Regions from separate parts of the Homo sapiens genome. Here region 1 is linked to region 2. Evidence: fine-mapped expression QTL. A gene starts in region 2. The other region holds a variant in brackets. All regions are shown on one strand. Distances are between the middles of the regions. Region 1 holds the start of LOC124906234 (a long non-coding RNA gene). Region 2 holds the start of SMARCC1 (SWI/SNF related BAF chromatin remodeling complex subunit C1).

Region 1 (5,377 bases), 180 kb before region 2:
AAGCAATTTTTTAGAAAATGTTTAAGAGATGGAGTCTTGGCTGGGCGTGGTGGCTCACGCCTATAATCCCAGCACTTTGGGAGGGCAAGGCAGGTGGATCAAGAGGTCAGGAGTTCAAGACCAGCCCGGCCAAGATGGTGAAACCCCATCTCTACTAAAAATACAAAAATCAGCTGGGTGTGATGGTGGGCACCTGTAATCCTAGCTACTCGGGAGGCTGAGGCAGGGAATTGCTTGAACGTGGGAGGCGGAGGTTGCAGTGAGCCGAGATCATGCCACTGCACTCCAGCCTGGGTGACAGAGTCAGACTCCGTCTCAAAAAAAAAAAAATAAATAAATAAATAAGAAGAAGAAGAAGAAAAAAGATGGGGTCTTGCTACGTTGCCCAGGCTGGACTAGACCTCCTGGGCTCACGTGATTCTCCTGCCTCAGCCTCCTGTGTAGCTGGGGTTACAGGTGCATGCCACCATGCCCAGCTAGGATAGAAAGCTTTAAGAAGGGATGCAGAGGAGTTAGTGCCTAGAGCAGAGAAAAAGTGCCTTTGCAGAGAAGTATGGGCTGAATGTCAGGCTGATGAGACAGAAAGGAATAGGAGATGGAGATGGCACTCTGCAAGTTCCTTCTTTTTTTTTTTATTTTATTTTTTTAAAAGAGATGAGGTCTTGGCTAGGGGCGGTGGCTCCTGCCTGTAATCCCGGCACTTTGGGAGGCCGAGGCAGGCAGATGACGAGGTCAGGCATTTGAGACCAGCCTGACCAACATGATGAAAATAAAAAAATTAGCCAGGCGTGGTGGCACGCACCTGTAATCCCAGCTACTAAGGAGGCTGAGGCAGGAGTTGCAGTGAGCTGAGACTGCGTCACTGCACTCTAGCCTGGGCGACAGGGCGAGACTCAGTCTCAAAAAAAAAAAAAAAAAAGAGAGAGAGATGAGGTCTTGCTCTGTCACCCAGGCTGGAGTACAGTGGTATGGTCATAGCTCACTAAAGCAGTGAACTCCTGGGTTGAAGTGATGCCCCCGCCTCAACTTCCTGAGTAGCTAGGATTACAGGTGTGCACCACCACGTCAGCTAATTTATTTATTTATTTTATTTTTTATTTTTTAATTTTTTGAGACGGAGTCTCACTCTGTTGCCCAGGCTGGAGTGCAGTGGTGCAATCTCCGCCTCCCGGGTTCATGCCATTCTCCTGCCGCAGCCTCCCGAGTAGCTAGGACTACAGGCACCCGCCACCACGCCCGGCTAATTTTTTGTATTTTTAGTAGAGATGGGGTTTCACCATGTTAGCCAGGATGGTCTCGATTTCCTGACCTCATGATCCGCCTGCCTCGGCCTCCCAAAGTGCTGGGATTACAGGCGTGAGCCACCATGCCCGGCCCACGCCAGCTAATTTTTTATAGAGATGGGGCCTTGCTATGTTGCCCAGGCTGGTTTCAAACTCCTAGGCTCAATGATCCTCCTAACTCAGTCTCCTGAGTTGCTGGGACTATGGGTGTGAGCTATTGTGCCCAGCCACAGGTTCTGTAAAAAGAGGCATCCTCGGGATTGGAGACAGAGCAAGAAGGAAGGGCGAGCATGGAGCTGAGATGGAAAATGAATTTGGGTTTGGTATCTGACTGCTGGGAGTGTGAAGATGGGATGACGTGAAGAGGACACAGAACTTTTTGCTTTGGGAACAGATGTAGGCTGGGCAGCCATATAGTGAAATACAGAGGTATCGGTGAAGGGAAGGTATAGAACTCCCAGAGTTTCAAATAGAGCAGTGGCAAACAGAGACTTACTATTCTAAGATTCTCCACAAACTGCCAAAGAGGCACCTTTGTTTTTAAGGTGGTACTGTCCCAGCTCCCTTTTGGAAGCCCTTTTTTTGTTCTCTTCCTACCCCACATCACCTGCTAGGCCATTAATAAAAGCAATGCTTTGTTTTCCACACTCTAAATCACTACTAATGATTCTCTAATGGTATTCTAGGTGGCGTGAAGGACAACAGGAGATGATTTTGTTGCTGCTGGAAACAGGAGGCCTACTTTTAAAACTAAAAAGTACAATATTCTAGCCTGCAGACGAAAGAACACTCCTAATGGACTTGTTGTGACAAAGGGAAGCCATATACTAGGAGAAATAATGCTGCCCATGTTTATCAACAGGTACAGGTTGCTCGCTTCCACCAAGTCCGACCTGGACAGAGGCCTTAAACAAGTTAGGAAGAACATATTGCCGCCCTTCACAGGTCTCCTCCTCTCTCTCTCAATCCCTGAGCTTTGGTTTCCTGAGATTTTATTGATTAAAGCTATGTATGTGGCCCAGTGCAGTGGCTCATGCCTGTAATCCCAGTACTTTGGGAGGCTGAGGTGGGTGGATTACTTGAGGTCAGCAGATCAAGACCAGCCTGGCCAACATAGTGAAACCTCGTCTCTACTAAAAATATAAAAATCAGCTGTGTGTGGTGGTATATGCCTGTGGTCACAGCTACTTGGGAGGCTGAGGAGAAGATAGTTTGAACCTGGAAGGTGGAGGATGCAGTGAGCTGAGATCACGCCACTGCACTCCAGCCTGGGCTACAGAGGGACTCTGTCTCAAAAAAAAAAAAAAAAAAAAAAAAAAGAGAGAGAGAGACACACACACACACACACACACACACAGAGACAAAGACAGAGAGAGAAGAAGGTGATGTAAAGATGGAGCAAAGAGAGACGTGGCCGTAAGACAAGGAATGCTGCAAGCCACCGGAAGTTGGAAGAGACAAGGAACAGGATTCTTCCCTATATACCTTGGAAGGAGCATGGCTTTGCTGGATATTGGACCTGATTTCCCAGAGAGTAAGAATACATTTCTCTTGTTTTAAGTTATTCTGACAGGCTGTGCGCAGTGGCTCACACCTATAATCCCAGCACTTTGGGGGGCTGAGGAGGGCGGATCACCTGAGGTCAGGAGTTTGAGACCAGCCTAGCCAACATGGTGAAACCCTGTCTCTACTAATAATACAACAATTAGCCAGGAGTGCACATGCCTGTAATACCAGCTACTTGGGAAGCTGAGGCAAGAGAATCACTTGAACCCGGGAGGTAGAGGTTAGAGTGAGCAGAGATCACACCACTGCACTCCAGCCTGAGCGACAAAAGCAAACTCTGCCTCAAAAAAGTTATTATAGCAGCCTCAGGAAACTACGTAGGAAACATGTGCTATGCCTTAGGCACTATATTTAAGAGTTTTATAAATGTTAACTCATTCAATCCCCATAACAACACTATAAACCAGGCACTATTATCCCTG[T/C]GGAAGAAAGGGAAGGACACAAAGATTAAGTAGCTTGCCCAATGTCATAAAGCATGTAAATGAGGGAGCTCAGATCTGATACAGGTACTCTGATTCTAGAGATGGTGCTTGCAGCCAGTGTGCACCCCTGACAATCAAGGTCTGGGGGAGAGGGGTCCAACAGGTGCTCAGAGACGACGTGATGCAAACCCTGGTGTCACCAAACTGATTGATCCATTATTTGCCCCATGCTCAGCTCCAGACAGAAATTACTTTCTGAACCCGCAATTCAGAATATATGTTCCAGCAGAGAAATCAACTATTCAAGAAATAATCTGGCAAAGAGGAGCATCACTGGCTGATTGACAAACACCCACAAAGTGATGTCTACCTATCATGCACTGGGAAATGCCTGCAGGCTCTTGCTCTTAGGCCCAGTAGTACTATTTCCAAAGCTATCTGCTCAGTGGCAGTGGCCCATTTACCTATTACCCTACATCTTTATGAATACAAGCTGGAATAGGGCAGCTTTAGGGTTTTCCAAGGCTGTTAGCCCAACAGCTAAAAAAACCTTTCTTTTCATTTATTATAAATTCTAAAGCCTTGTGAAAAAGATTCTTTATCCTATTGTCACAAACAAGGTCATAAAGCCACTGGGATACAGGTGTTCTGAGTATGAGAGGACAACGGCTCCTTGGCAGCAAAAATGAAGGTCTAGAGGAAAAGCAATTTACTTCTGCTTATGGCACCCTGCAAAAACAAACATCTCTCAGGAAAGCAAGAGGTACCTAAGAGTGAATGATGTCCCTTTGCCATTCAGAGGTTCCTTCTGTCAGATGCTAAGCAACTCAGCACTGGTGTACCTGGGGCAGTGGGTTTAGAGAAAAGACAGGAAAGGAGGTAAGAATAAGGTTGAGTAAGGGTTGACCGTGCCAGGTGATTTGACAGTTATCTCTCTGAAGTCTCCAGGTTGTTAGTAAGATGATGGTAAGGGCCTAGTTTTGAGATAAGGAAACTAAGCCTCAGAGAAGCTATGTAATTTGGCGCAAAGTCACAATGAACAAGAGACTGAGCTGAGATTCAAATCCAGGTCTCTCTGACCCTGAGGTCCATTCTCTTTTCCTTTACCCCACCTTCCTTTCTAAGGAGTAACTTTCCCCTTAGAAAAGGTAACTTCCAAGGATGAAATCTGAAATGGGGTAGAATTTAAGAAGACTCAGGAGAAGACAAAATCAATTTCGCACAAAGCAACCCTTGTCCTTAAGAAGTCTAAACATCTTTATGGGTTTTTGTGGTGTCTGATATAGGTCTCACCACTTTTAAATGAACAACAGTGTCTGCATTTCCATTAATTCTTACTAACATTAAGAGATCTGGCCCACACAAATCTGAAATGCATAGGAACAGGCCTTAGCAAACAAAGTAAAGGATGTATGTCTTTTCCATTAAAAAAAAAAAATCAGGTATTTTTTCCCAGCAGACAGGGAGAGGAAGAAAATGAGAGAGAGAGAGAGAGAGAGAGAGAGAGAGAGAGAGAGAGAGAGAGAGACATGGCATCAAAACAGCAGTATCAAAAGCTTAGAATGGTGGGAGTCTGACCTACATACAAGCTTTTTTTCTTTTCTTTTTTCTTTTTTTTTTTTAAACAGCAGGCATCTGAAGCCTGAAAAATTAAAAGCTTTGCTAAAATTAGGTTTAACTAGTAGAAAAATCCCTCATTCTCTCTCAGGTTTATTGTATCTTTTACTAAAGCATTACACTCATGACACTTAATGGAATATTAGTAAAGGACCTTAATTTTATACTTTGGGTTGGGAAAGGAGGGTAGGAAAAGAAAGTGAATCTAGGAAAGGGAACCTGTGAATTTCCAGTCTTGAGCACATTTCATCAATCCATTTCTAACTGTCTATAGCACATCCTCTGGCTGAGTCTCCTGGAGAATGGAAATAACAAAATCAGGGCCAAGTGAGGGGAAGCCCAGGCTCCTCAGAGACTGTGCCTTCCCCACAGCAGCTTCCTGGGGATGCCTGTGACAGACTCTCTTTGTTGAAGACTGGGCCCTCACTGTTCTCTTTGTGAGGGTAACCTGCTACTCCGGAAAGTAGCATGGCTACTCCGGAAAGTAGC
Region 2 (5,377 bases):
TGGGCCAAGTGTGGTGGCTCACACTTGTAAGCCCTGCACTTTGGGAGGCTGAGGCAGGCAGAGAGCCCAGGAGTTCGAGACCAGCCTGGGCAACACTGCAAAACCCTGCCTCTACTGATAATACAAAAAATTAACCAGGTGTGGTGGTTCGTGCCTGTAGTCCCAGGTACTCAGGAGGCTGAGGTGGGAGAATCACCTGAGCCCAGGAGGTTGAGGCTGCAGTGTGCTATGATCTCACCACTGCACTCCAGCCTGGGCAACACAGAAAGACCCTGTCTCAAAAAAAAAAGAAAATTCCTAAATGAAGTCTCAGGTATCTTCCATTTGAAAAAGAAGGTAAATAATATCTATCATTTAGGACTGCTATGAGGACTTTAAGTGAGTTATACTTTAAGTACCCGGCACATGGTAAATGCTCAGTTGTTCACTGAATGCATGAGCTGAATGCAAGAGTTTGAGGTTGCAGTGAGCTATGATCACGCCACTGTACTCCAGCCTGGGCAACACAGAAAGACCCTGTCTCAAAAAAATAAAGTAAAATAAAAATAAATAAAAAATGACACTAACAAAATCATGTTTACTGAGACTGAAACTGTTGTCTGCTCTGAAAATGCAGTATTAAATGCACTAGAAACGGTTAGTTAAAACCAATGCGTACACCAAATAGAAATGCACTGTGTAGAAAAGAAGCAAAGAACTTTGTGATAATATTTTCACCACTTCAACGCTAACACCCAGAGACTGAAAAGATTCTGGCTGTCAGGCCTAGGGTATATACGTTTCTCAATCTCAGTAGACCCTAGAAATACACTCTGGCTTTACAAAGTCCTGAGAAGTCAAAGGTAACTTTGTCTATAAAGTCTCAGGGATAGTGAATCAACATTAGCCTAGTGGTCTCAATACTGCTGGGCAATTCCTCAAACTGCTTTGTAGCCACTTCCCTACCCACCCAAACAAATATCGAAGGATTATCCATGTCTAAAGCTTCTTGTAGTTGATCCCAAACTGATGCACACTGAACAGTGCGGAGAGGTAGAAATTACTGAAATTTGCCTTTTTCTACTCTCTTCCTTGATATTATTCAAAGGAATATGCCTGTAGATTATTTTTCTTTGTTAAAGCTTCACTGAATTTAAGACCCAAAGCATTGGCTAAAAGGAATGTAATAAAGAAGAATTAACCAATATTTTCATAACATATTCAATTCCATTAGCCACTTCTGGAAGCTCTATTACTTACATTTAAAAAGTGACCAATTTATCACTGTGTAAGAAAGGGCAATATTACTAAAAATCTACAGTCTAAATGTAATTTCAGAGGAGGAAAAGTCCAGACACCTAAAAATATAATTACTGTCTCTCACTTCCTCAAACTTCAGATAAGAAATGTAATTTTTCTAGCTGACCTTCAAAAACAAGAAAGAAAGAAATGATCATTTCTGGGTCTTTGGTTTTTTTTTGTTTTTTTTTTTTTTTTTTTTTTGGAGACAGTCTTACTTTATTACCTAGGCTGGAGTGCAATGGTGCAATCTCGGCTCACTGCAGCTTCTGCCTCCTGGGTTCAAGAGATTCTCCTGCCTCAGCCTCCCGAGTAGCTGGGATTACAGGCATGTGCTGCCACACCCGACTAATTTTGTATTTTTTGGAAAGACGGGGTTTCACCATGTTGGTCAGGCTAGTCTCGAACTCCTGACCTCAGGTGATCCACCCGCCCGGCCTTCCAAGCCGCGCCCGGCCAGAAATGGTCATTTCTGAATGTACCACGTGTAATGCCAAAGGAACCCAAGATCCCTGCCCATGCCTAATAACTGCCAAACACTGACAGGCTTCACTGAGCTGCTGAGGCCAAAAAAATAGGTTCCTAAACTAGTTTATGTTTTCATTCATTCAACAAATATTTACTAAGCAGCCACTAAGGGTAAGGCAATAAGTATCAGCCACGTTCCCGGATACACTGCAGTGAACAAAGCCCTTGCTTCAGTGCTATGATTCTCAATAGGAGAAAGTACAGAACTAAAGAGGGTGATAGGAAAACTTCAGAGGCTGGGGAGCCTTTTCGGCTACCTGCTTCATTACACCCTTTAAGGGAGTCCTCCTGAATATTTACACAAAAGGGAAGTTGGAAAAAAAAAAAACATTTGTTATAAACAAAGGATTAAGTCAAAACTTTGAAAACTACTGACTCGGCGGAACTTCCGTTCCAAAGGTAGGAGAAATCAGTAAATGAATAATTTCAAAATGTGGTAAACACTACGAAGAAAATAAAGGTGACACAAGAAAAGTGCTCTAATAAAAACTGGGTTCTTGGGGAAGGCCTCCCTTTAGAACACTTTACGTACAAGCGACCATCAACTCTCACGCCACACAGAACCAGAAGCACGATGAGGTAGAACCGTCGTTAATAGTTCTCATCCATCCTAGAATTCATATTGCCTGTTATTAATTAACGAATACAATCATCCCAGTCGTTTAGCAATTCAACAACAGGTAGCAAACCCCCTCGAGACTTTGAATACGCTCTAAACAAAACTTGAAGCTGCTTTTACCACGCTTGCTCGGTCTTTAGGGATCATTGTTCACACACCTAAGGCAGCTGACAAAAGAGAGAGAGTCACACTCGCTTAGTGGCTGAGCTCGACCTGCTCTGGCACACGAGACTGAGCAGGGGCTTTCACCATGGGTGCGTAGGCTCAGAGGAGAGAGCCCCGAACCCCAGTCAGGCCCCGGGATCGCGGGCGCCCAGAGCGGGCGGCGGGGGCGTGGCGGGCCCGGCGCCTGCCTTTGTTGTCCCTCGTGGCGTGCGGGGGGGAGGGGCGGCCCGAGGCCCGCGAGGCCAGCTGCCGCCTCCGGCCCCGGTCGCGTGGTCTCCCGGCCCCCACGGGCGCGCGAACCCACCTTCTTGTAGTGCTTGCCCAGCCAGACCCGCACCGAATCCAGCTGGGACACCGTCTCCGGGCTCTCCCAAAACTTGGTGGCCGGGCCCCCATCCTTCCGTCGATAAACAGCTAGGCCTGCGGCTGCCGCCGCAATCCCCGAGCCCGTGGCGCCTACCGCTGTCCCCGGCCCGCCGCCGCCCGCCGCTGCGGCCATCGTCGCAGCCCGTCGTCCCCACAGCCTGGCCCACCCCGGCCCTCGCGGTGTTTCCCGGTCGTTCCCGCGCGCACCCCCGCGCGCGTAGCCGCCACTGCCGCTTCCCGGCCCCGCCCAGCCAACCCTCTTCCGGCGCGGACGCCCGGCCCCGCCCCATCTGGGAACTGGCACTGTATCTGACGCGAGCCAGCGCACGCGCATGCGTAGCACTCGTGCGGCCGTGCCTTGGAATAGCACGTCCTGCGGCCTCAGCCGCCTCTTCCGCCATCCTCCGTAGGCTGCATTCTGCCCTAGTGAGCGCCGGTTTTTGAGCCTTGCTCTTCCCTCGCTACCGACGTCGAATCATTATGCGGTCAACAACCGCAGGTGGGTTATGTGTCATAGCCCGCCTCCGCTGGAGGGAAAAGGCCTGGTGCGAGAAATGCCCAAGGGAAAGCCTGTCTAGGGTATCGAGTGCTGGCCGAGGGCCCTGCACCCGGACTGGGACTGCGCCGGGCCCCGCTTTCCCTCAGGCCCTCCACCCCCAGCGGCCCGGCGGCATTTGTGAACAGCCATCTGGGACTCCCACGCCTAGGCTTTTCGGCTTCACAGACCTTCCACTCCCTCAGGGGTCCAGCCACAGCGGCTCATTCCTGCCCCAGGGGCCCTTGCACTGGCTCTTTCGAGACCTCAGCAGGTCTTCCCTTCTGATTTGCACTTACGAGACGCGTTCAGATTCACTGCTTCAAAGGACTTCAGAAAGTAGTTGTCAGATCTTAACAATCTTGAACAACTGTTCACACCCATACACTTTCTGCATAGCGCTCACCACGACCCGGCGTTTCTAGTTTCTCATTTACCTTCCACATAAATTACATGAGAACCTAATCTTAACTTGTTCACAGGTGTATCCTGAACACCTGAGACAAGGAACAGATGTACAGTAAATACTTGATGAGTTAATGAATGGCCCACATAGAAGCCGAAAATTTTTAAATTATTAACAAGGTATATTGGCCGGGTGCGGAGCACTTTGGGAGGCTGAGGCGGGAGGATCAATTGAGCCCAGGAGCTCTAGACCACCACACCCATCCCCGTCTCTACAAAAAATACAAAAATCAGCCAGCGTTGTGTTGCAAGCCTGTGGTCCTAGCCTCTTGGAGGGCTGAGGTGGGAGGATCCCTTGAGCTGGGGAGATGGAGGCTGCAGTGAGCTATAATCGCGCCACTCACTACACTTCAGCTTGGGCGACAGAGCGAAACCCTGTTTCAGAAACATAAAAAGTATGACTGGCCATAATGGAGTTGTGAACATAATGCTATATGATCGCAGAGAAGCAAGTAACTAATTGCTTGTGAGAACGTGACTAACTGCTGGTAAGTTTCTGAGATCTTTTAAAAATGAGGGTGTGTACATGTTTTCAGGATCTCCTGAGGGCTGTGTCACGGACAGTAAAATATATTAAATAAAAAAGTTAATAGAATGTGATCAAGAGGGCCAGGCGAGATAGCTCACGCCTGTAATCCCAACACTTTGGGAGGCCAAGGCAGACTGATCACGAGGTCAGGAGTTCCAGACCACCCTGGCCAACATGGTGAAACCCCGTCTCTACTAAAACTACAAAAATTGGCCAGGTGTGGTGGTGCATGCCTGTAATCCCAGCTACTCGGGAGGCTGAGGCAGGAGAATTGCTTGAACCCAGGAGGAGGTGGAGATCGCAGTGAGCTGAGATCACGCCACTGCACTCCAGCCTAGGCGACAGAGCCAAACTCGTCTGAAAAAAAAAGTTTTTAATTTGAAACTTTCTCAGATTTAACAGAAAAGTTGCAAATATAATACAAAGAACTTTTCCTGAATCATCTAAGAGTAAGTTGCTGACATAATACCCATCACTATCAAAAAGTTTAATGTGTATTTTCTACAGACAAGTATAGTCTATATATTCTCTTACATAATCACAATACAATCATTTATACCAGGAAATTAACACTGATGCCATCCCCAGACCCCATTCAGGTTTTTCCTATTGCACCATGAAGTCCTTTATAGCAAAAGTTTCCAGTTCAAAATCACACTTTGCATTTAATAAAGTTTCATCTCCTTCAATATGGAACAGTTCCTTAGTCCTTAAACCTTAACAACATTGATACCTATGAAGATTACAAGGCATTTATTTTGTAGAATGACCCTCAATTTAAGTTTGTCTGATGTTTGTATCTTTGTGTTCTTTGCATTGCATTCTATCAGGTGGTGCATAATTTCATTTCTCCTGTTACATTGATGACAGAGTATCATCCAGGTTTCTCTAC

The links.
Region 1: its variant is fine-mapped to the expression of SMARCC1 in lung (TOPMed, PIP 0.94).

The regions. Positions count from the first base shown.
Region 1 is chr3:47,596,250-47,601,626 of GRCh38, forward strand. The region is part of intron 26 of SMARCC1 (SWI/SNF related BAF chromatin remodeling complex subunit C1); the gene reads right to left. It overlaps LOC124906234 (a long non-coding RNA gene), which reads left to right and starts at 3,974. Exons shown (of 3, transcript XR_007095902.1): 1 at 3,974-4,034. The variant T/C (reference allele first, on the strand shown) is at 3,272.
Region 2 is chr3:47,778,709-47,784,085 of GRCh38, forward strand. SMARCC1 (SWI/SNF related BAF chromatin remodeling complex subunit C1) reads right to left here and starts at 3,185. Exons shown (of 28, transcript NM_003074.4): 1 at 2,895-3,185. The coding sequence starts at 3,089. RefSeq lists silencers at 2,659-2,898, 3,079-3,298, 3,709-3,758, 3,869-3,928 and an enhancer at 3,131-3,425.